7 linked regions of the Homo sapiens genome follow. The protein of the gene in region 3 purifies or fractionates together with the protein of the main gene of each other region. This does not show direct contact. Each region holds a gene or a part of one and is shown on either strand. Other genes may lie near its edges.

What was found.
Region 1: the proteins of H2AJ (region 3) and DDX46 purify together in Homo sapiens (affinity purification with mass spectrometry; one large-scale study listed by BioGRID and IntAct). This does not show direct contact.
Region 2: the proteins of H2AJ (region 3) and ESF1 purify together in Homo sapiens (affinity purification with mass spectrometry; one large-scale study listed by BioGRID and IntAct). This does not show direct contact.
Region 4: the proteins of H2AJ (region 3) and DIDO1 purify together in Homo sapiens (affinity purification with mass spectrometry; one large-scale study listed by BioGRID and IntAct). This does not show direct contact.
Region 5: the proteins of H2AJ (region 3) and NOL10 purify together in Homo sapiens (affinity purification with mass spectrometry; one large-scale study listed by BioGRID and IntAct). This does not show direct contact.
Region 6: the proteins of H2AJ (region 3) and PPM1G purify together in Homo sapiens (affinity purification with mass spectrometry; one large-scale study listed by BioGRID and IntAct). This does not show direct contact.
Region 7: the proteins of H2AJ (region 3) and DCAF13 purify together in Homo sapiens (affinity purification with mass spectrometry; one large-scale study listed by BioGRID and IntAct). This does not show direct contact.

Annotation. Positions count from the first base shown.
Region 1 is NC_000005.10:134,786,279-134,789,778, reverse strand, and holds part of DDX46 (probable ATP-dependent RNA helicase DDX46), read right to left. Parts: intron 1,267-3,500; coding exon 1,188-1,266; intron 564-1,187; coding exon of another isoform or gene 511-563; exon of another isoform or gene 165-510; intron 1-164. UniProt on the Homo sapiens protein: Component of the 17S U2 SnRNP complex of the spliceosome, a large ribonucleoprotein complex that removes introns from transcribed pre-mRNAs.
Region 2 is NC_000020.11:13,771,420-13,774,919, forward strand, and holds part of ESF1 (ESF1 homolog), read right to left. Parts: intron 1,197-3,500; coding exon 1,096-1,196; intron 65-1,095; coding exon 1-64. UniProt on the Homo sapiens protein: May constitute a novel regulatory system for basal transcription. Negatively regulates ABT1.
Region 3 is NC_000012.12:14,773,098-14,775,524, forward strand, and holds H2AJ (histone H2A.J), read left to right. Parts: upstream 1-1,307; 5' UTR 1,308-1,373; coding exon 1,374-1,763; 3' UTR 1,764-1,927; downstream 1,928-2,427. UniProt on the Homo sapiens protein: Core component of nucleosome. Nucleosomes wrap and compact DNA into chromatin, limiting DNA accessibility to the cellular machineries which require DNA as a template.
Region 4 is NC_000020.11:62,920,006-62,923,505, forward strand, and holds part of DIDO1 (death-inducer obliterator 1), read right to left. Parts: intron 1-3,500. UniProt on the Homo sapiens protein: Putative transcription factor, weakly pro-apoptotic when overexpressed. Tumor suppressor. Required for early embryonic stem cell development.
Region 5 is NC_000002.12:10,687,176-10,691,235, reverse strand, and holds the start of NOL10 (nucleolar protein 10), read left to right. Parts: upstream 1-1,260; 5' UTR 1,261-1,374; coding exon 1,375-1,440; intron 1,441-4,060.
Region 6 is NC_000002.12:27,383,146-27,385,591, reverse strand, and holds part of PPM1G (protein phosphatase 1G), read left to right. Parts: intron 1-503; coding exon 504-919; intron 920-1,499; coding exon 1,500-1,640; intron 1,641-1,991; coding exon 1,992-2,226; intron 2,227-2,446.
Region 7 is NC_000008.11:103,428,886-103,432,385, reverse strand, and holds part of DCAF13 (DDB1- and CUL4-associated factor 13), read right to left. Parts: intron 1,775-3,500; coding exon 1,697-1,774; intron 1-1,696. UniProt on the Homo sapiens protein: Part of the small subunit (SSU) processome, first precursor of the small eukaryotic ribosomal subunit.

The sequences.
Region 1 (3,500 bases), on a different chromosome or scaffold from region 3:
ACATAGGAAATTCCTTCTAAAATATTAACAGAAGCATTGCTATCAACTGTTGAATCAATCACCTGGCAAAAACACGTATAAAATAGTTATTTAAAAATAGACCACAATGACAGATAAGAGAAAAAGGTAAAATTAATCAAGATGAATTTCAGGAGGAGACTTAATCAATGCAGCATTGAGAAAAAAAAAAAGGGATTATTTAATCAGCATTCAAACCAAAACTTTCCATATGCTAGACAAGCACAATGACTTCTCAATTTCGATGTCACTTTGCCAACTTCATGTACAATTAGAATTAGAAATTCAAGCAGAATACTACTAGAAACATGCACTAACTCAGTTTTTAATACTCTATTATGTACACACTAAATATTGCAATGGAAACCTCTGAGAGCATTTTCTTCAAAAAATAAAAAGTGCCAAAATAAGTGCTATCTAATATTTAAGTATTCCACACTAGCATTTGTAGCCCCAATTAGTTTTGCAAGGTCGGGAACAGCATTAAATTACCTACCTTTGATGGTTTAAGTCTCGGAAGCCCAGTTCTATAAATCTTGAAGGGCCTTTCTCCACAGAAGTTAAATAATGTCAACAGTTTAGTAAGAGTTTTGATAGGGAATAATTTAACAAAGCATAACATTTGAGCTACAAACATGCAATATTTACAAAAGATAAAATTTCTTGAAGCTGCAATATCTTAATTTATGTAGTATCTAAGAAAATACTAGCTCATGTGGAGAAAAAGTCTAAATTTTGTAATAAAGAAAAAGCTACTACCCCACTCTTTTACTAAGCAAAGCCAGGCCAAAACTGGATTAAGAATCCAAGTTATGATCAGATGGAGTTACTTCTGAAAAAAAATTTTAAATTGCAAAAATATCATTAATGCTTGTAATAATCAACTTGTTACAATTATTATTTTTTTTTTTTGAGACGGAGTCTTACTCTGTCACCCAGGCTGGAGTACAGTGGTGCGATCTTGGCTCACTGCAAGCTCCGCCTCCCGGGTTCAAGCTATTCTCCTGCCTCAGCCTCCCAAGTAGCTGGGACTACAGGCTACAAATTTTAAGATACTGCAGCTTTAAGAAGAAATATAGAAACCCTTTGTTGGTTTCTTGCATCTGTTTTAACAAAAAAAAGTAAAGAATTCAAAAATAAAAGACACCAAAAAAATACCCCTGACTTACCACTGTTAGCGGCTAACATGTCAATCATTCGACCAGGTGTGCAAACAATAATTTCAGCACCTCTTTTCAGCTCAGCAATCTAATAAAAAAGATGAAACTTTATAGTCTATTACTAATGCTTACTTAAACACTAAAAAATACTGCATTTAGTTCTTGCCTAGTCTAATTAGAAGACTTCCAAGCTTCCTGCTTAATTATTTTGAATCTCGGGGCACTACTAAAGAAATAGCAACAACGTGACCACATAGTGCCATAAATTTGAAACAAATAAGAACTAGAGAATTCTGCAAATTTGATTTGCCACTATCCCTCAAAACCAAGAAATGAACTTAAGAAAGCAGTTTAAAAAAAAAAAGTGATAATCTCTTGAGCCCAGGAGTTCAAGGTTGGAGTGAGCTATGATCACATCCTTGCACTCCAGCCTGAGCAAGAGCAAGACCCTGCCTCAGAAAAAGAAATTTCTAAGTGACCACATAGACTAGTGTTTTTCAAATTGAGGGTTGCCACATTAGTGAATCATGAAATCACTTTAACAGTCATAATCAGCTTTTTTTTTTTTTTTTTTTGAGACAGGGTCTCACTCTGTTGCCCAGGCTCTGTTGCCCAGTGCAGCAGTGTCATCATAGGTCATTGCAGCCTAGATCCTGGGCTCAAGTGACCCTCCCATCTCAGCCCCTCCCCCCACCACCCCACACACCCTCCCAGTATCTAGGACTACAGGCACTCGCTAATTTATTTACTGTTTTAAGAGATGGGGTCTCACTACATTGCCCAGGCTGGTCACAAACTCCTGGACTCAAGTGATTCTTCCATTTCAGCCTCCCAAAATGCTGTGATGATTACAGGTATGAGCCATAGTGTTCAACCACAACCAGCATTTTTTAAATGAAATGGAATGGAAAATACCAGAAGTCCCTTAACATCATAAAACTTTTGTTTGGCATTTATATAAATACAACGTGCAGGCATGTACCATGTTATTTTGTAAGTGTATTTCTACAAACTACAGTCATGAAAAATCATAAAGATAAACTTAGAAAATGAAGTAATTTGAAGTAATTAAAATAGCACTGGAGTTAACAAAAGCAAATATTCTTGAAGTGTGTTCTTGTAACAATAGTCCTAAGAAACAGTTTTGTAGTTAAGTTCAGAAAACGTCACTTAATTTATCCCATTTATCTAGCAACACAATATACATTAGCTTATTAAGAACAAAGAAGTCTTACAGGAAAGAAAGTGGTTTTAACTTTTTATACTCCAACATTTCCAAAACTTATCCAATCACAGAACCTACTTTTTTGCCTTCTTCTAGTTAAGCAAAATATCTGAAAACTATTTCATTCTTTAGAAGACAGCTGAAGGGCTGGTCACAGTGGCTCACGTCTATACCTTTCGGAGGTGTTACAAAGGGAAGCCAAGGCAAGCAGATTGCTTGAGCCCAGGAATTCAAGACCAGCCTGGGCAACATGGCAAAACCTCGTCTCTACAAAAAAATACAAAAACTAGCCGGGTGTGGTAGCATGCGTCTGTGGTCCCAGATACTCAGGAGGCTCAAGAGGGAGGACGGCTTAAGCCCAGGAGGTCAAGGATGCAGTGAGCCAAGGTCACACCACTGCACTCCAGCCCGGGCAACAGAGTAAGATGCTGTCTCCAATAAAACAAAACCAAAAAACAACAACAACAACAACAACAAAACACCTCTGATATTAATGCATCCCAGTAATCACCATCACTTCCGCCACCCCCCAAGATGGAGTCTTGCTCTGTCTCCCAGGCTGGAGTGCAGTGGCGTGATCTCAGCTTACTGCAACCTCCGCCTCCCAGGTTCAAGTGATTCTCCTGCCTCAGCCTACCGAGTAGCTGATATTACAGGCAGGCGCCACCAAGCCAGGCTAATTTCTGTGTTTTCAGTAGAGACGGGGAGTCTCGCCATGTTGGCTAGGCTGGTCTTGAGCTCCTGACCTCATGATCCACCCGCTTCGGCCTCTCAAAGCGCTGGGATTACAGGCATGAGCCACCGTGCCTGGCCACCATCACTTTTTAAAGATGTCAGCATAGATTAGAGAAACAAATGCTCAGAGATCAGAGACCTAGGTTCCAGGACAAACTCTAGAACGTATTAACCTAATTGGTCAACTTAATAAATCTTTCTGAATATTTCCTCATATGTAAAATGAAAAAAAAAATCTGCTTTCTCAGGCAGGGGAAGAGGGAGGAGGGATAATCTATGTAAAAAGATTCAAAAATTCTAATCTAGCATTAACATAGTATGTTCTTTTTTGCCACAACTATATTGGGTCATAATTAACAAAA
Region 2 (3,500 bases), on a different chromosome or scaffold from region 3:
TACTACTGCATAATAGTACTTCAGTCGTTTGAATTGATAATCTCTCAATTTTTCTCTAGACGTCCTAAAGTGGGAAAAACTTATTAAGCATACTTATACAGAAACACAAAAATTTCCCTTTAAAAAATAAATGTAATTCTTTCAAGAAAAACATATTACAAGCTGGCCTTCATACCAAACCATCTTTCCTTCATGACTTTGCCTTTATAAACATTAAATACTTAAGCTCAACTTATTATTCTCACAAGGTACAGATATTTGGATTGGAATTTGGTATCTAGGAAAGGAGTGTGTGGGAATTCGTGTGTTTATCTATAATTTAACTCACAGAATAGTTACTTTGCTATTACACACTGCCTTCTCAAGTAAAACCAATAAAGATAATTCTATTATAAAATATGCTAGAAAACCATTAGCTAAAAGACATTCCTGATCTTGCAAAATGTTTGCTTAAGAGTCTATAAGTTTGATTTTGCTTAACTACAACACATTCTTTTTTTTTTTTTTTTTTTTAAGGTTCCACACAAAGCACTGATACAACTCTTTCTTTGAAGGTCTTCATCTGCTCTCTCCTGTCACTAATCTATTTAACCCTCATTTTTATTAAGTGCAAATATAGCTCCACCTAGTGGCTTAAAAACTATCTTAAATTATTTTCTATATTGCACCATGATGATAAAAAAAAAAGTTTTATCATTCTTTCACTTTTCTATTTGATTCTCAAATAAGAAAAAATTATATAATTTGAAGGCAAACAGAGCTTCAATGATGTCTCAAAAAAAAAAGCAAAACGTACTAATTCAGAGCAACGAGGCTGAAAGAATTCAAAAGAACTCCAAATCAGTTTAATCATGAAATGTTTTTCAAAAACTGCAATAATTACTTTCATGAATACAGAAATAGAAATATACACGAACAAAAATCTTCTTGGAATAATGTACCACTTTTAACAGACTTTAAATCTGTTTTGCAACCTGTTTTAACCACGAATGGCACAAGTATAAACTTTAGTTTTAACTATTAAGGTGACCAGAATTCTGAACTAATGACATGAATTTATGAGGTTTAGTTTTATGTTCTATAGTGATTTAATACCAGTCTTTTTCTGGGGCATCTTCAGGAATACTTAATAGCTCTACTGGTCCTTGAACTTGCTCTTCCTTCATCCTCTCCTTTCCAAATTCTGAAGGATATATCTAAACAGAAAAAAATAGGATCAATGTAATTTGTACATTCCTTTACACAAATATCTAGACCTGTCGAAGTCAGGAACTCTAAAAGTCACAACTTGACTCAATGAAAACAGTAAGGGTGACTCACTTCCAAATCCACTATAGGAAGCTAGAGCATCTTGAGAAATTTTATTTAAAAATAGATCACTTTGGCTAGAGACTAACAAGATACGAGGCTTGGAAACAAAAATAAGAGTATCTCCTCCACATACCACCTGGGACAAGATGGTTCCGAGATCCAAACGAAAAATTAAAAGCAAAACAAGATGCTAAGCTCAAGGAAATGTGAATAAAAACACACACATGAAAAATGACTGAATTAGTTTACATGAAATACAGAAAAATAAACATATAATGAAGATCAATTTTGTAATAACCAACTTATCTCTGTCATACCATTTATCCAGTGCTTTCTTTTAAAGAAATAGAACAGAACTGACGACAACCTTATACAGATTAGGTATAGTCTCGATATAAGAAAAAGAATTCACTCTCACCAGGTGTGGTATCTTCTAAAATCTTGCCTACTTTAAGAGTCAAGAAATAATTGTATTAATGACATTGTTTTGATACTACTAGGCTTAATATACATTTGTTAATGAACACATGCTTTTTTAAACTGTCTGAAATATGCAATTTATCAACAAGATGATCCAAGTTTTTCTTACTAACTTGAATAGTATATACACAATAGGTTTAATATGTAAGTTTATAATATATATGTAGTCACATCTTTTGATTCTTTTTTTTCCTCTTTTCTAAGTCTAGAAATTCTCACTATTGCCTAAAACACAGGGTTTTTAAATTGTTTCTTTGGCTTGACTTTTAATTTTTTTTTCCTTTGCTTCATCTAGAATTTCGCTGGAGCTATTAGGAGGTGAAGATCTGAACCAAGTTCTCTATCCAATGACCTGTTCATTTGTCCAAATATTCAAGCAGCCTATTTTGATCTAAGTTATCATATGAACTCTTTCTATCTATTCTGTTCTACCAATTTGTCCCATTTTTACCCAAACCTGTCAACCCCCATAGCATCATGAAATGTTTAGATATTGTAACTTGTAGGGTGAGTTTTTACACTTGATCTTAGCCAAAAGGCCGAGAAGCGACAGGGTGAGTTTTTATATTAGCATGATTTCTCAAAAGTTTATTAGCTAGTCTAGGCCAGGCGCGGTGGCTCACACCTGTAATCCCAGCACTTTGGGAGGCCGAGGCGGGCGGATCATGAGGTCAGGAGATCGAGACCATCCTGGCTAACACAGTGAAAACCCGTCTCTACTAAAAATACAAAAAATTAGCCGGGCGTGGTGGTGGGCGCCTGTAGTCCCAGCTACTCAGGAGGCTGAGGCAGGAGAATGGCGTGAACCCGGGAGGCGGAGCTTGCAGTGAGCCGAGATTGCGCCACTGCACTCCAGCCTGGGCGACAGAGCGAGACTCCATCTCAAAAAAAAAAAAATAGTTTATTAGCTACTCTTAATTTGTTTATTCTTTTAGATGATTATTGGTATCCTTTTTCTTAACTTTGACTTGAACTGGGATTTTGATCAAAATTACCCTAGAACAGTAGACATAACATCTTTAAATATTTAAACAGAATAATACAGGTTGAGCATCCCAAATCCCAAATCCAAAATTCCAAACTTTTTGACTGTCAACGTGAGGTTCAAAGGAAACGCTCATTGGCGCATTTCAGATTTTGGAATTGCGATGCTCATCCAGTAAGTATATATAATGCAATTTTATTTCAAAATCTGAAATTCTAAACACTTCTGATCCCAAGCATTTTGGATAAGGGAGACTCAATCTCTAATAATGATTGAGGGCAGGGCTATTTCAGGCACTGCACTAAATACTTAGTTCAAGCTCCTTTATACTTAATCCTTACAATCACCAATACTATTGTTATATCCATTTGGATATATTGGAAAGATGTAAACATACTTGAGAGATTAATTAAGTGTCCAGGATCACATAACACTTACGAGAATCAAGATTTGAACCCAGGTCTGCAATAATGCAAAGCCTGGATTCTTAATTATTAGGTTGGCTTGAAATATGGTATCCTCAAAATTTATGTAAGTTTTTCAAATTTATCAAGTGTTACAGTTTACTTCACATAGGTCATTTGTGTTTATTAAGGTAATTTCCAAGAACTTTATGTGGTTTTGTTTCTAGTATAATTAGATTTTTTCCTTAATTGGCCAGTGTTAGCAATAAGGAATGCAATTTATTGTTAAAAACACTTCTTATATGCTGTCCCTTTACTGA
Region 3 (2,427 bases):
TCACTGCTCAGTGGTAAAGCCAGGATTTAGGCTGAGGCAGACTGGCTCCGGAAAGACCGCCTAAACCATGACAATAGCTCTGAAGACATTTATTGAGTCCCCAGTATGGGTTCATCATTGTTCTAGGCAGTAATGACATATACATAAATATTTGAAAATGTTATTTCAATGAAGTCAAATCTTTATTCGGATAGTGAGAAGGTAAATTTGCTTTACTTTAAATGTAAATGAATCCACATAAAATGTTTATTTTAAAAAGCAAGCGTTCAACATTACATCACGTATCGGTGTTAACTGTGTTACTGAAAATGTTCAGGTAAAAATGAAATGACCTCGATGAATTAGGAGAAAGTAATTTTTAATTAAAACAAAACACTTGAAACACTCTTTTTGTTTCAAAAAGCATGGGTCCACAATTCAGGTATATAAGAATAAGCTGCCATTCTGACTTTAGTCTCTGGACTCATTTACAAAGAGACCCGGGGGACCTCCACGTCTTCGCAGAGGACCCGATCCGCTGATCTGTGGCGCCCTGGCTTGCGGGGAGCAAGCCAAGGCCAAGACTTTGGCCTCTCCAATAAAACCTAGTGGCTCTTTGCAGGCCCATAGCCTCAAAGACAAAAGATATTTTGGCTAGGCGAGCTTGTTCCTCCCGTCAGCACAGGAAGCATTCACGTCTGGTCATCACTCTAGCTTCAGACTCAAAAGTGAACGATTGGCTGGCTGTGAGCCGCAGGACCCTGCGGGGAGACCAGGGTGGTCTCTACACTGTTGGGTAGCTAGCTGGAGGCAAGGCGCTTGTATAAGAAACAGTCCACGGACCCTGTCCTGGGCAGGCAGAATTCCGCGGACAGGCTGTTGTTTCGCCTAAGCAGCACGGGCTGCGGAGACAGAAACCTACCTGAGTAGTACGGTGTATTATATGAGAACATCCACTTAGCATAGCAACGTCTACGGACAACCCCTGTAGCTCTTCTTCTGGATTGTTTTCTGTTTCCAACCATGTTTTCTTATTTCCTACGAGTTTATGTGCTTGGAAGCGAGCGTGGTCGTGGAAAACCCGTAACCGCTAAATTCATCTGGGTCCCCAAAGACTGAGCCGGCTGGCCTCGTTATTTATGTGAGCGGCTATGTAAATGAGGATTCGGAGATTGCTCTATTGATTGGAGAGAGCTGGAGGAGGCGGTCTCTCTTCCAGAGCGCTAGTTGGGAGCGGAGCCTGCCTGTCATTGGTCACCAGAGCCAATGGAAAGGGGCTGCCGCGCGGCCGTAAAGAGTTTGTAGAGGCAGTTCGGGTGCGGTACGTTGCATTCCGGTACCGGACGCCGAGAGCGGTTTGTCTCCGTCTCTGGAGTTGTAGGCGAGAGGTGATCATGTCCGGTCGCGGGAAACAGGGCGGCAAAGTGCGAGCAAAGGCCAAATCCCGCTCCTCCCGCGCGGGCCTGCAGTTCCCGGTGGGCCGAGTGCACAGACTGCTGCGCAAAGGGAACTACGCGGAGCGAGTGGGCGCCGGGGCGCCGGTGTACCTGGCGGCGGTGTTGGAGTACCTTACGGCGGAGATCCTGGAGCTGGCTGGCAACGCCGCGCGTGACAACAAGAAGACCAGGATAATTCCCCGCCACCTGCAGCTCGCCATCCGCAACGACGAGGAGTTAAACAAGCTGCTGGGCAAAGTGACCATCGCTCAGGGCGGCGTCCTGCCCAACATCCAGGCCGTGCTGCTGCCCAAGAAGACGGAGAGTCAGAAGACGAAGAGCAAATGACCCTGACGCCGCCCTCAGGGAGCTGGCTCCCCCAGCAAAGGCCCTTTTCATGGTCGTCCCGCAATGCTTTTGAATGTGCTGGATGTCATGGAGGGCCGGTGACATCTAGCGGGGAGGTGGGCGGCGAGGGTCCCGGCGGGAGCCAATAAAGTTGGTGAAAATCGTTTGGTCGAGAGAGCTGTGTAGTCGCGGGGACATGTCGGATGGCCCCAGGGGAGGGGGGCGACCGGGAAACCCCTGGAGCAGGCACTGGTGGGTGGGCTTGAGCCACTCTGGACGGCTTTAGTCCGCAGGTCACCCTCGAGGCGTCAGGGGAGGGTGGCCTGGAGGTGGGCAGGGTGGAAGCCACCTCGCTGTCAGTAGGGCAAAGGGGAGGCAGAGTCGGTGCGGTGAGGCCTCCTTCGGAATTATTTTTACTTCCCTTTCACAGAGCCTTCGCTCTCCTGCCAGTTTGTGAGCACTCAGGACCAAGTTCTGGGAAGATACCGTCGGATCGAGCTGAGCTCGGGGCAGGAAGTGTCTGCGGCCATATTTTTCAAAAAGTGGAGTAACTTTCCGTCTTGGAAGGGTGGCTCTGATGGCACGATGTCAACTTGAGATTCTTCCTAGCCTAGTAGCTGCTGTGCTTTCATGCTTTGGATATCAGATATCTTTATATAGCACT
Region 4 (3,500 bases), on a different chromosome or scaffold from region 3:
TCAGTAAAAAAGAAAGTATGGTTTCAAACACTTAAGATACGGTCCCAATTCTACATACCAGGATTCCTGTTGCTCTTAATAAAAGATTACCACTTGGGCCCTGGTGAGGACCACAATGCACAGGTTCTTATCCCCATGAAGAAATCCACCTCATGCCGCAAGTGTGGCAGTGTGAGCTCCCCGGGTACCATGTGAGTGGGGTGCGCTGCGGGAGGTCATCCCAGCAGGGTACTGTGGGGGCTGCTTCCCCTCAAGGGCATCTGTTTATTACAGGTTTAAATCACTGTTCCTTTATGTTCTCCTCGGTCCACACCCTTAGAGACCTGCATAATTCCATGGCCCCAAGCACAGCCTACTCTTGCCTCCCCCCAACCCCCGATTTTCACTGCTGCAAAGGATTCAGCAAGGGGCTGTGTAGGGCACTTTGAGGGAGAGGTGTGTACTGGAACAGCTTTACCGGTGACAGCGCATCAGATTGATTCCACACTTGCCCCAAGGGGCAAGCACATGGTTGAGCCACTAAAAATTGTTCAAAGACACAGCTTATCTTCCTAAAAGTAATCAATTTCCCCAAGTGTTTAGAGCTATTTTACAACTCTTAGAGAAGTGGTTCTCAAAGCGTGGTCCAGGGGTCCTTTTGGGAGGCCCCCGGATCAAAGCAGTCTGCACAACACCAACATTCCATGCTGTTTCCACAGCCACTCTGAGTATATGCTAGAGCATTTCAGAAGCTGAACGGAGACACTAAGTTTGAATTCGGAAGGAGAATCCAGAAGCTGTCAGTTAAGCCAAACAGATTTGTGAAAACAAAACCATCTTTCTCATTGTTTTCGTCATTGAAAACAGGTTCCACTAAATGGTTTACTTATGTTAATATATAATGGTTTACAATTTTACTTTATTTATTTGAGATGGAGTCTCGCTCTCACTTAGGCTGGAGTGGAGTGGCACGATCTCAGCTCACTGCAACCTCCGCCTCCTGGGTTCAAGGGATTCTCCTGCCTCAGCCTCCCGAGTAGCTGGGATTACAGGCGTGTGCCACCATGCCGAGTTATTTTTTTTGTGTCTTTAGTAGAGAAAGGGTTTCACCATGTTGGCCAGGCTGGTCTTGAACTCCTGACCTCAGGTGATCCGCCCACCTTGGCCTCCCAAAGTGCTAGGATTACAGGCATGAGCCACCGTGCCCGGCTGGTTTCCAATTTTAAATAGAAGGCACTTCAGCATTTAAATGACTCATTTTTAAATGTCAAACATGGTGACTATCAATAGATATAACAAAAGCTCTTTGGGGTCTTCCCTGCTTTTTAGGAGTGTAAAGCAGTCCTGGGTCCTGCCAGTCTGGTAACCGCTGACACAGCAGCGCCTTCCACTGCTGGAGCCTGAAAGGCTGCTCCCCGAGGCCATTCCGGTTCAGTCAGGATCCTAGTGGCAGTGACAGGTACTGCTTTAGCATTCACTTTTTCCAGACACCCTGTCTACTCTCATTCAGTTTCATGTGATTACTGACCAGGCAGGGATTGCCAAGTGAGATGATGGCCACCCTAAGTTCAGGTGGAGAGAATGGGGTTTCTTCTTTAAAAACCCTTCTCTCACAAGAATTTGCTTCTCAAATTGGAGCTGCAGCCAATTTTTTTTTTTTTTTTTTGGAGACAGGGTCTCTGTCGCCCAGGCTGGAGGGCAATGGAGCGACTGATCACGGCTCACTGCAGCCTCAATCTCCCTGGGCTCAGGTTATCCTTCTACCTCAGCCTCCTGAGTAACTGGGACTACAAGCATGCACTACAATGCCCAGCTATTGTGTGTGTGTGTATATCCACAATATATATATACTATATATATCCACTACATATACCCGCTATATATATATCCACAATATATATACACACTATATATATATCCACAATATATATACACTATATATGTCCAAAATATATATACACTATATATGTCCACAATATATATACACACTATACATATGTCCACAATATATATACACTATATATATATCCACACAATATATATCCACACGATATATATACACACAATATATATATACACACACTATATACACTATATACACACTATATATACACACTATATATATACACACACACACACACATATATACATATATACACACACACACACACAAACAATGCCCGGCTCTTTTATATGTATGTGTGTGTGTGTGTATATATATATGTACATATATATACACACACACACATATATATATATACACACACACACATATATATACACACACACACAGGTGTCTACCTGGCCTGTGTCTCCAGGGTCTTGGGAGCATCTCTGGGGCCTACTCCCCTCAGTGCAGGTTCAGCATTCCCAGTCCTGACAGCTGCAGCCAGCAGTGCCCACCCCCACCCAGACATTTATAACCAGGACAAGCCCTCAGTTAAGCAGATGGGGGGCTCACTCAAGGGGGAACCTGTCTATGAATGCAGGGTTCAACCCCAGCTGCAAACGATAGCGGGGGTGGGGGGGTACAGTGTACCAGGCAGTGTATCTGTCTAGGAACGCGGGGGCCACAGGGTATCAGGCAGTGCATCTAAGGCCTGCACTTTCCTGTCTGTGAAATGGGGACGGTAACGACCTCACAGCTTCCTACAAGGTTTTCTGAAGCGACATCCTGTGCCAAATCATCTGCGGCAAGTGTGCAACAGACGGTAGGTGCCACCTAAGAAAGTGACACAGCCTGTGCTGGCGAGGGCTTGGAGAGAAAGGCCCTCTTAGGCGAGTCTATTTGTCCGACATATTTGCCAACAGCCCTTTATGGGCTTGGCACAGGGAAGAGAGCGGGTGACATACTGTTCTCATGGAGGGCAGGGAGTGCTTCACGATGACCCAGGAGAAATTAAGTAGGAAGTACACACTAACTTATGAGTGTTTTTTTTCTCACAAAGGTGACAAACTGAACACAAACTAACAGACCAGTTTGAAAAATCAAGAAACATCTATATAGTGAAATTCTTTTTGTTGGGGGTGGGGGGTGGACAGAGTCTTGCTCTGTCACCCAGGCTGGAGAGCAGTAGCAGAACCACGGCTCACTACAGCCTGGAACTCCTGGCTTCAAGGGGTCCTCTGGCCTCTGGCCTCAGCCTCCCAAAGTGCTGGGACTACAGGAGCACATCAGCATGCTTGGCCTAATTATTATTATTTTTTTTTTGAGACAGAGTCTCACTGTCGCCCAGGCTGGAGTGCAGTGGTGCGGTCTCGGCTCACTGCAACCTCGACCTCCCAGGTTCAAGCGATTCTCCCACCTCGGCCTCCCAAGTAGCTGGGATTACAGGCACGTACCACCACACCCAGCTAATTTTTGTATTTTTAGTTAGAGATGGGGTTTCACCATATTGGCCAGGCTGGTCTTGAACTCCTGACAAGTGATCCACCCATCTTGGCCTCCCAAAGTGCTGGGATTCCAGGCACGACCCACCATGCCCGGCCGGGAATTCTTTAAGGGTGATGAATCATCACAT
Region 5 (4,060 bases), on a different chromosome or scaffold from region 3:
ATTTGAGAGTTTCCAAAATGTTGTGGGTAGGAGAGCAAAACAATAATATTTGGGTTTTAGAAAGTAAGGCATAAAATAATTTGTTCATTAAATCAAAGGAAGTAAGAAGATCACTTGGGAAAGTTATAATCCAAAAATAGTTAAGTATTTGAGTTTCAGCAGGAGGAATGAAAACAGATTACTTTAAGGAAATATTTCATAATTAGAAATATCCAGGTTTAGATACTGAAAGTGAGGGCCAGAGATAGGAATGGGTTGAAGATGACGCCACAGTCTTCTTTTTTTTTTTTTTTTTTTTTTGAGACGGAGTCTCACTCTGTTGCCCAGGCTGGACTGCAGTGGCACGATCTCAGCTGACGGCAACCTCTGCCTCCCGGGTTCAGGCGATTCCCCCACCTCAGCCTTCAGAGTAGCTGAGATTACAGGCGCGCGCCACCAGGCCCGACTGATTTTTGTATTTTTAGTAGAGACGGGGTTTCACCATCTTGGCTAGGCTGGTCTTGAACTCCTGACCTCAGGTGATCCGCCCGCCTCGGCCTCCCAAAGTGTTAGGATTACAGGCGTGAGCCACCGCACCCGGCCTACAGTACTTCTAACGTAACATCGCAGAAACACTGGAGGAGAGAAGAGAATACACTTCCACTCGGAATTCGCACCCTGGTCGCCTTCATTCGCTGGGTTCACTCGCTGAACTGCCTCGCCCCCGCCCGGGAGGATGACATCTCGGCCTGGGCAGAGACTCGAAAGCCTCCTCCTGCCGCTCGGGATGCTAACAGCAGGGAGAGCTGTGTCTAGTTTTTTTTTTTTTTTTTTTTTTTTTGAGAGGGAATCTCGCTCTGTCCCCCAGGCTGGAGTGCAGCGGCGCGATCTCAGCTCACTGCAACCTCCGCCTCCCAGGTTCAAGCAATTCTCCTGCCTCAACCTCCCGTGTAGCTGGGACTACAGATGCCGGCCACCACGCAAGGCTAATTTTTTTGTATTTTTAGTAGAGACGGGGTTTCACCATATTGGTCAGGCTGGTCTCGAACTCCCGACCTCAGGTGATCCGCCCGCCTCAGCCTCCCAAAGTGCTGGGATTACAGGCGTGAGCCACCGCGCCCGGCTTGTGTCTAGTCTTGCCCGTAGCAGCGTCGCCGACAGCCACGCCGGGTTGTCAGAGCCTCACTAGTTTTTCTCCCGGCCGCCGCTCTTCCCGGATTCAGCCACCTTCCCTCTTCCGGGAACTTGCCCGCGTGTTCCGGCTCCAGGAAGTGCGTCATCAGTCGGCGCCAGCGGCCGCACGCCGCGGAGCAGGGGCTCGGAGGTCCCGGGATTACGGTGCTCGAGCACGCTGGTGGGAAAGGACCCGGGACTTGAACAGTGTTGTGCGGCGCCATGCAGGTCTCCAGCCTCAATGAGGTGAAGATTTACAGCCTCAGCTGCGGCAAGTCCCTTCCTGAGGTGAGTCACTTCCCGGCCCCCTCACTCTCGAGCTCTTGGGGGTCGTCCTCCTCGTGGGGCAGCCGCCCCTCTCCTCGGCCCTAGCCTCTGTTTTAGCTGGACGCTGGTCACCCCCCGACTCGGGGAGGCCCAGAGGCGGCTGACAATTTCCGGGGGAGGTGTCGGCATTGGGAGACAAGGACACTGCCGTCACCGCGCCAGAAACTGGACCAAGGGATAATCAGGGTCAGTGAGCTTTGCTGGAACTTTTGTAAAGTTCTCTGTTCCAGAGAACGCAACCATTTGGGCCTCTTTGGGTGTTCACAGTCCCTGCCGTACATCGAGGAGGAAAACGTGGCAGATTCGTTGACACATCTCTCCCCCATATGGCCATCAGCTGTTTGTGGAGTCCCTATCATTTGCCAGGTCTTAGGGATACAACAGTGAACAAGGGAGATACAGACTTCGCATCTGCAGAATTTATGGTGTAGAGGACAGTATTTTCGAGACTTGTTGAACTTAACCTGATTCCTAGTCTTAAAGTTGGAGAGGGCTTGGACAAGTCGGTAATTCTCTTCCAATCTTCTCGTGTTTAGTAATGCAGCTGAGATTTAATAATGCGTTTAATATGCAGCTGAGATCCAGCAAGGGGAAGGGTGACTTGTCCAGCATGACACACTTAGGCTCTGAAACTTGTCTTTTGTTTCTTATACGTGATGATCCAGCCTCTGTCCAAGCACTACCACTGAGCACTACCTTTTGTGGAAGCTCATTTCCATTTTGAGACTCTGCACTTGTTAGAAAGTGGTTTTCAAATATGTCACCTTATAGCATGCCACTGTTGGCCTGAGTCCTGCCCTTGGAAAACAGAATAAATATAGCTCTCCTTCCATGCGTCTGCTTCTACAAAAATTTGGAGCCAGTGCTTAGGTTTTTCCTTTCTTCCTAAAATTCTGGTTTGAATAATTCCCTGTCTTCCAGTTGTTCTTCACACCCCATGAGCTTTCTCATTTTGTTCATTCATTCTCCACATGTATTGAGAAGTTACTGTGTGCAAGCAACTCTGTTTTAAGTATTGGGATCTATAGTGGACATTTCAGATAAGGTTCCCTGTTGGGGAAAAGGGAAATAAACAAGTGAGCAAATAAGGCAATTTAAGGTAGTCAAAAAGTACTTTTCGTGGTGAATGATTAGAAGAGAGCTGTTTTGGATAAAATATTGAGAGAAAGTGTTTTGGATAAAACCTTCGGGGAAGGCCTCTCTACAAGAGGTGACATATGAGCAGAAACTTGGATGATGAAGAGGAGCCAGTCGTGTGAAGATGTGGGGAAGAGTTTTCAGTGCTGAGAACAGAAAGTGCAAAAGCCCCACATGGGAATGCACTGGACATGTAGGAGGACGGAAGAGGCACAGGTGTGATTGCACTATGCTGAGTGAGGGGGCGAGAGCAGGGTGGATGAGGCTGGAGAGGTAGGCCTGGTAGGAAAGGTAGGAAGTTCAAGTTTTATTCTTAGTGCTGCTGGAAGTCACTGTTGTGTGGGCTGCTGTGCGACAAATGTCTAGCTGGGGAGGGTTCAAGTCGGGATGAATTAGGTAGTCCAGGTGAGCGACTTCGGTGGCTTGGGCTTGCCTGGTAACAAAGAAGATGCTAAAACACAGTGAGATTCAGGACATACTTTGTAGATAGGGTAATGGAACTTGCTAATGGATTGGACTGTTGGTAGAGGGAAGTTGAGGTGACAAAAAGGAAGGAATCAGAGAACTCTTCAGTTTTGAGTCTGAACAAGTGGGTGCACGGTGGTGCTGCTAACTGACATGGAGAAGAATCAAGAAGGAACACATTGAAAGGTGGAGAGGAGGAACGTAGTGAGCAAAAAGAATCAAGATTTTTTTTTGAGGTCGCGTGCAATGGCCTGATGTTGGCTCACTGCAACCTCTCGGGTTCAAGCGATTCTCCTGCCTCAGCCTCCCCAGTAGCTGGGACTACAGGCACGTGCCACCACACCAGCTAATTTTTGTATTTTTAGTAGAGACGGAGTTTCACTATGTTGGCCGGTATGGTCTCGATCTGATCTTGTGATCCACCCACCTCGGCCTCCCAAAGTGCTGGGATTACAGGCATGAGCCACTGCACCCGGCCCAAGGTTTTTATTTTCAATAGTGAACATTTGAAGTTCTAATACATACCAAATGGAGATGTTGAGTAGTTAGCAGTTGCATGGATACTAGGATGGAGATTGCAGGTGAATTTACTGTCGTTATTTGGGACTAGGTGAGATCAAATTGTGAGAGAAAGAACAGAGAAGATAACTAGGCTGAGGACCTGAGGCAGTCTTAGCATTTGTCATCCAAGAAGAGGAGGGGAACCCAGCAAAGAAGAAAGAGTAGTGGGCACTGATGGAAGGGGAGACTGGGAAATGTGTAGTTTTGTAGAAGTAAGTGTTTCAAGGAGGAGGTGGTGGTCACCTGTGTCAGCTGCTACTGAGAGCTTCAGTAAGATGAAGGCAGAAAAATGACCATCGACTTTGGCATGATGCAGAGCGCCCTTGACCTTGGCAAGGAGCTCCAGTGGAGTGGTGGGGAGGGTAGCTTGAGCTGAGTGGATTTGGAAACCCCTGCTTGTCCTGTTTAATATTTTCTG
Region 6 (2,446 bases), on a different chromosome or scaffold from region 3:
TGAAAAGGAGGGAGAGAATTATCTTCGTTGAGTGGCATCTGAGCTGTAAGCATTGTATATACATTATCTTTTGTCATTGTGATGGGGTCTTCCTGGTTCCTGCTAGTATTTATGTGCTTTTTTTTCCCCTCAAGACTGGAGCAGTTATTAGCCCCAATAGCCAATCATTAAGCCTAAATCCTAATTCACAGTAGCATTGTGGGCTTCCTGGATCCTCAGCCAGAATAGGGTTTTTACAACTTAACAATAAAAAATGAGACGTCAGAGGGGAAGTATAGTAACTAGTGTTGTTTTGATTAAGAAGGGGATGAAACACAAAAACCAAAAGAAGTCTGTGGAGGAGGAGGAGCTAGGGCATGTTCTTCTGAGACTTGAGCGAGAGGAACCTTGGGAGTGGGAGGTTGTGGGGAAGTTAGAGGCTGCAAGGGCTGTTGAGGTAGTGAGAGGGACGGATCCCATGAGGAGTCTGGCATGGGGGCTCTGATTTAGCCTCTTCCCTGCAGTGGACAATGAGGAGGCTGCACTGCTGCATGAAGAGGCTACCATGACTATTGAAGAGCTGCTGACACGCTACGGGCAGAACTGTCACAAGGGCCCTCCCCACAGCAAATCTGGAGGTGGGACAGGCGAGGAACCAGGGTCCCAGGGCCTCAATGGGGAGGCAGGACCTGAGGACTCAACTAGGGAAACTCCTTCACAAGAAAATGGCCCCACAGCCAAGGCCTACACAGGCTTTTCCTCCAACTCGGAACGTGGGACTGAGGCAGGCCAAGTTGGTGAGCCTGGCATTCCCACTGGTGAGGCTGGGCCTTCCTGCTCTTCAGCCTCTGACAAGCTGCCTCGAGTTGCTAAGTCCAAGTTCTTTGAGGACAGTGAGGATGAGTCAGATGAGGCGGAGGAAGAAGAGGAAGACAGTGAGGTAAGGGCCTGTGAGGGCAGGCAGATGCTGAAGTTGCAGAGAGGTCCTGTTTGGTTGCCGTCTGTAGTTTTCAACTCTCTTTCCTTCTCCTATTTTGACATCATCCCCCAAGACCCACTGTATTCTAAGCTTTAGTCTTGAATTCATTGAGCTCCATCATCACAGGTACCATTTGCCTTTTTACCTCTTCCTTTGTTGGTACTATAACAAGCAGATCTAGTTCTGGCTTTTCAGAGTCTGTCTCCTAGAGAGAGAACAAGGAGATAGTTGTTACCTTGGCTAGTTGACTGTTTTCTTCTCTGGAAAATTTATTTTCTGGCCACAGTGCCTGAAAGATATTTTTGGCTGGCAGCCCTTGCCTTGTCCTGGGCTTTTTGCTAGTGACTGCTAAGCCCAGTTCAGGATGTCAGTTGTACTCATGCTAGCCCTTTCCATCCCCCCAATTTTCATGACCATATACTTGTATCTTTCAGTGTTTTGAGGACCTGTGTTCAGTCAGGACCTCTTGATTCTGAGTATGAGCTGTGGGGAGGGAGGGGATCATCCCAGTCTCAGCAGTCTGGGATCCTCCCCCTGGCAGGAATGCAGCGAGGAAGAGGATGGCTACAGCAGTGAGGAGGCAGAGAATGAGGAAGATGAGGATGACACCGAGGAGGCTGAAGAGGACGATGAAGAAGAAGAAGAAGAGATGATGGTGCCAGGGATGGAAGGCAAAGAGGAGGTGTGTGGGGAAGGGGAGCAATGAGTCTTGAAAAGCCACAAGGCAGGTGTGAATCCCCTAATTTTGATTTTGAGACAGGGGATCCCCCTGATACTTTAGGATGGAAGTAATAGTCATGGGGATTTATTCTGCAAGGGGAATGAGATGGTAAGCCTTTGGGGTTGAATTATCTAAAAACAAGGGAGAGGGAGTGTGCTGCTGTCTCTAGAAAGATGAAATGTGTGCTTCTCCTGTTTGTTAAAGCTCTTTTGGGGGTCCCAGTGAAAGCAAGCATAGGTGAACGATCAGGAGCACATCAGTGAGGAACGCATGTTCAGAAGCCCCCATGATGCTCCTTTTCTTCCTCTTAAGCCTGGCTCTGACAGTGGTACAACAGCGGTGGTGGCCCTGATACGAGGGAAGCAGTTGATTGTAGCCAACGCAGGAGACTCTCGCTGTGTGGTATCTGAGGCTGGCAAAGCTTTAGACATGTCCTATGATCACAAACCAGAGGATGAAGTAGAACTAGCACGCATCAAGAATGCTGGTGGCAAGGTCACCATGGATGGGCGAGTCAACGGGGGCCTCAACCTCTCCAGAGCCATTGGTAAGGGCCAAGAAACTGGGAAAGACTTCTAGGGTCTTTCTCTCTGTCCCAGACTACCTAGTAGCAAACTTTAATCTTCCTAGTGCTTGTGCCTTTCAAAGCACTTTAATATCTACTACCTCTGTTCTTATATTTCTGTGAAATAACTAAGATGGGTAGAGGTATCATTATACATAGGTATCATTATACCCATCTTATGTAACATTTGAATGATGAAAAA
Region 7 (3,500 bases), on a different chromosome or scaffold from region 3:
GTAACAAATGACTAAGTATCAAATTAGGGGCAAAATTAATGGTGAGCTTAGGGTTAACATAAAGAACTGTTTCTAAAGACAAGTATGATTTGAACTGACCTGTGAAGGATCAGTAATTCAGTGTTTCTCAATGGGAACACTGTTGGCATTTTGAGCAGGATTATCTTTTGTTGTGTATGACTATCCACTGTAGGATGTTTTGCCACTCAGGGACCTCCCACTACATGTCCCTCTTGCATTCCCAGAACTGTACCTGGTAGGGGACTACAATCCCTGACTAAGAACTACTACATTTATGAGAGAAAGGATAAAAGAAACATTGATAGACTAGTAGATGGAGCAAAGAAGCAACAGAAAGTAGCAGTGTCTAACAATCCCTACATCTATCAAAGTGACCTGCATGTGACAAACTCCAATTCAATGTTACCTAACTGACTAAAAGAAATAAATGAGTTGCAAATTAGAACCAGATTTCAGAGCACCTTGAAAGCCAGGCTACATTTTCTTCAACCTAAAATTAATGGAGCTCCATTAAAAACTGAGAATGTGCAAAGCAGGAGGCAATAACAATGAAAAATAAACTAAATTAAAAAAAAAACAGAATGAGTGTTAGGTAGGTGGGAGGGGGCAGAAATGACTATTCATTAAACTAGTACCTCATGTCAGCATTCTGCTAAATGCTTAAAGTATCATGTTTTATTCTCAGCGAAGTGCTGCGAGATAGTTATTAATACCACCACCTTACAGGAGAAACACATTTTAGGTTAACGTGCTTAAAAGTCTAAGACCAAAGTTCATATAGGATCTTCCCATTAAATCACATGAATGAGTGAAATCATATAAGTGGTACTTTGGAAAGATTATCATATTTATCTACTTCAAACTTCAATGAATGTACTCTCCTAATATCTAGTTGTTACGTTATAAAAATGATTTAGGAATAACAAAAGCAAGTATTAAAAGCATTTCTTTTGTATGTGGACTACGACAACAGACTTGTGGCATCTCAATGATGTCCAGCCCTTTCTGTCACTCAAAATTCTAGTACCTGAAATAAACTTTATACCCTTTTACTTACAATGGCACTCCTTTCCTTACTTACAGACAGTATCTGTCTCCCTCTTGAGAGTTAGCTTAAGTTGTATTATTAGCTCTGATATGTAAGTCCTGAAATTACTACTTTAGAATTGTTAGGAAATCTGTTACTTTGAACAGGATAGTGGTTGCCTAAATGTCAAACTAGTATTGATCAGCATGTAACTGAACAAATAAAGCTGGTTACGTGAATGAGTTCTAAAACCTTCTGGAATAAAATAGTGTACATGTCATACGATAATCATGGGGCTTGAATTTATTGAATATTATTTGAATATTATTACACTGTTAAGTAACAGGATGCAATACCTTTAAGAACTTTCAATTCAGTAAGTATTAATTAGAGGCCTAAAATGTACTGGCATCATGGAAGACACAAGGTTGGTGACTAGGATACAATACCTAGCAGAAATTTAAGAGTCTCTAAAAAGCAATAGGGAGCTGAAAGAACATGACTATCATCATGTAGAGTTCTAAGAACACCTGTATAAAAGATTTTTTTAATTCTGAGAAAATATTTGCTCCATATTGTTAGTCACTCTATTTACAGAGAAATATATAATGCCAACTGTATAAAGCAAAAGTCAAAACTGAAACTCACCTTTTTCAAAGGAGTAGCTTGCCTCATATCGTACAGTACTATATTCCTGTCAGATGCACAACTTCCCAAGAGAAATGTCTAAAAACAAGTATAACAATCACCAGTTCAAAGCCAGACCTGGCAGCAAACCACATCCATTCAGTAAACAAATGATTTAATTGCCCTTAATATTTATGTTAAAAAACAAAGTCCATTTTAAGAGGGTACAATAAATCATCCATAATCTCAGCAACTTAAACCAAGTATTTTCACTGTAAAATCCTCATGCTTGTATTTTATTTATTTATTTATTTATTTAGAGACAGAGTCTTGCTCTGTCACCCAGGCTGGAGTGCAGTGGTGCAATCTTGGCTCACTGCAACCTCTACCTCCCAGGTTCAAGCAATTCTCATGCCTCAGCCTGTGGAGGAGCTGGGATTACAGGGGTGCGCCACCACACCGGGCTAATATTTTGTATTTTTAGAAGAGACAGGGTTTCACCATGTTGCCCAGGCTGGTATCAAACTCCTGACCTCAGGTGAGCCACCTGCCTCAGCCTCCCAAAGTGCTGGGATTACAGGCATGAGCCACCGCACCTGGCCCCCATGCATGTATTTTAATGTACAGATATTACTGTGTTCTAATTTGTAATAAAACATATTTTACTTACCTACTCTTCAACTTAAGACTTGTTTCCTGTTTTTTACTATTATAAGTAATACTTCAATAAACATTTCCCCCCCACGTAGTTCTTCTTTTGAATTATTTCCTTAGGATAAAATTTCACAAATGACATTACTGAATCAAAAGGTATGAACAATTTTATGGCTTTTGATATTTAGGGCTAATTATTTTTCCAAAGAGCTGTACCAGTATACACTACAATGTGGGATATGTCCATTTTAATGCAACTGGGCAGCACTGGGTAGTGTCATTTAAAAGTGTCATTTAAAATATCTGTATGACAGTATTTCCTAGCTATATAAATTTATTGTTTTATTAGTAAATGTTTCTTCGTGTTGTTAACTCTCTATAAATTAGGCCTGTCTTTTGTCCAACTGTTTGAAGATTTTTCTAATTATTTTATTTGTAAGTCAATTATAAATGTGCATGGTACTCACATAACCCCTTGGCATTAAGTAAAAATAAGCCCTCTATCATCCAGTGGATCCCTGAAACCCTCTCTCTGTAGCATCATTCCTCCTCACTCATGGTTCCTGACACTCACAACTATTGGCTTCTGCCTACAATTACTTCCTATTGCAAGTATGTGGGCAGCAAGAAGAGCTATTTACTAAATAGTTGCATGGCCAGCTAACTCCTCCTACTGTCTGTACGCAATTCAAATAACACATCATAAAGCTAATGTTATGATCATGATTTCCTCTCAGTTCTTTCTGAAAGCCTGCTATCTTAATGGCTGCTTTTCTGAGACTTCCCTAGTGAGGTCCCTCAACCTTTCTTGGCTTCTCATTATGTCGCCTCAGGGTCTGACCAGGTTCCATTTCTAAAAAGAAAGACTTTGATCTGAACAAAGCAAAACAATCTACCTAGACCAAATGCCACCTTTCACACTGTAAAACGTCCCAATGATCAGCATAAACTTTTGGCTTTACCAGAATTCTAGGCTTCAATATTTTAAGAGAAAATTAATTATTAATGATTAGAGGAGACAAATACAAATACACTCCATTTGTTCACAGCAACATGCCCTTTCCATTAAGTTTAAAACAGGATAAGAGACACACACACCATTTACTTTTACCACTAAGTTCATAAGGTTAATAGCAATTAAAAAAAAAAACAGCTGAACAAATACAGCTGC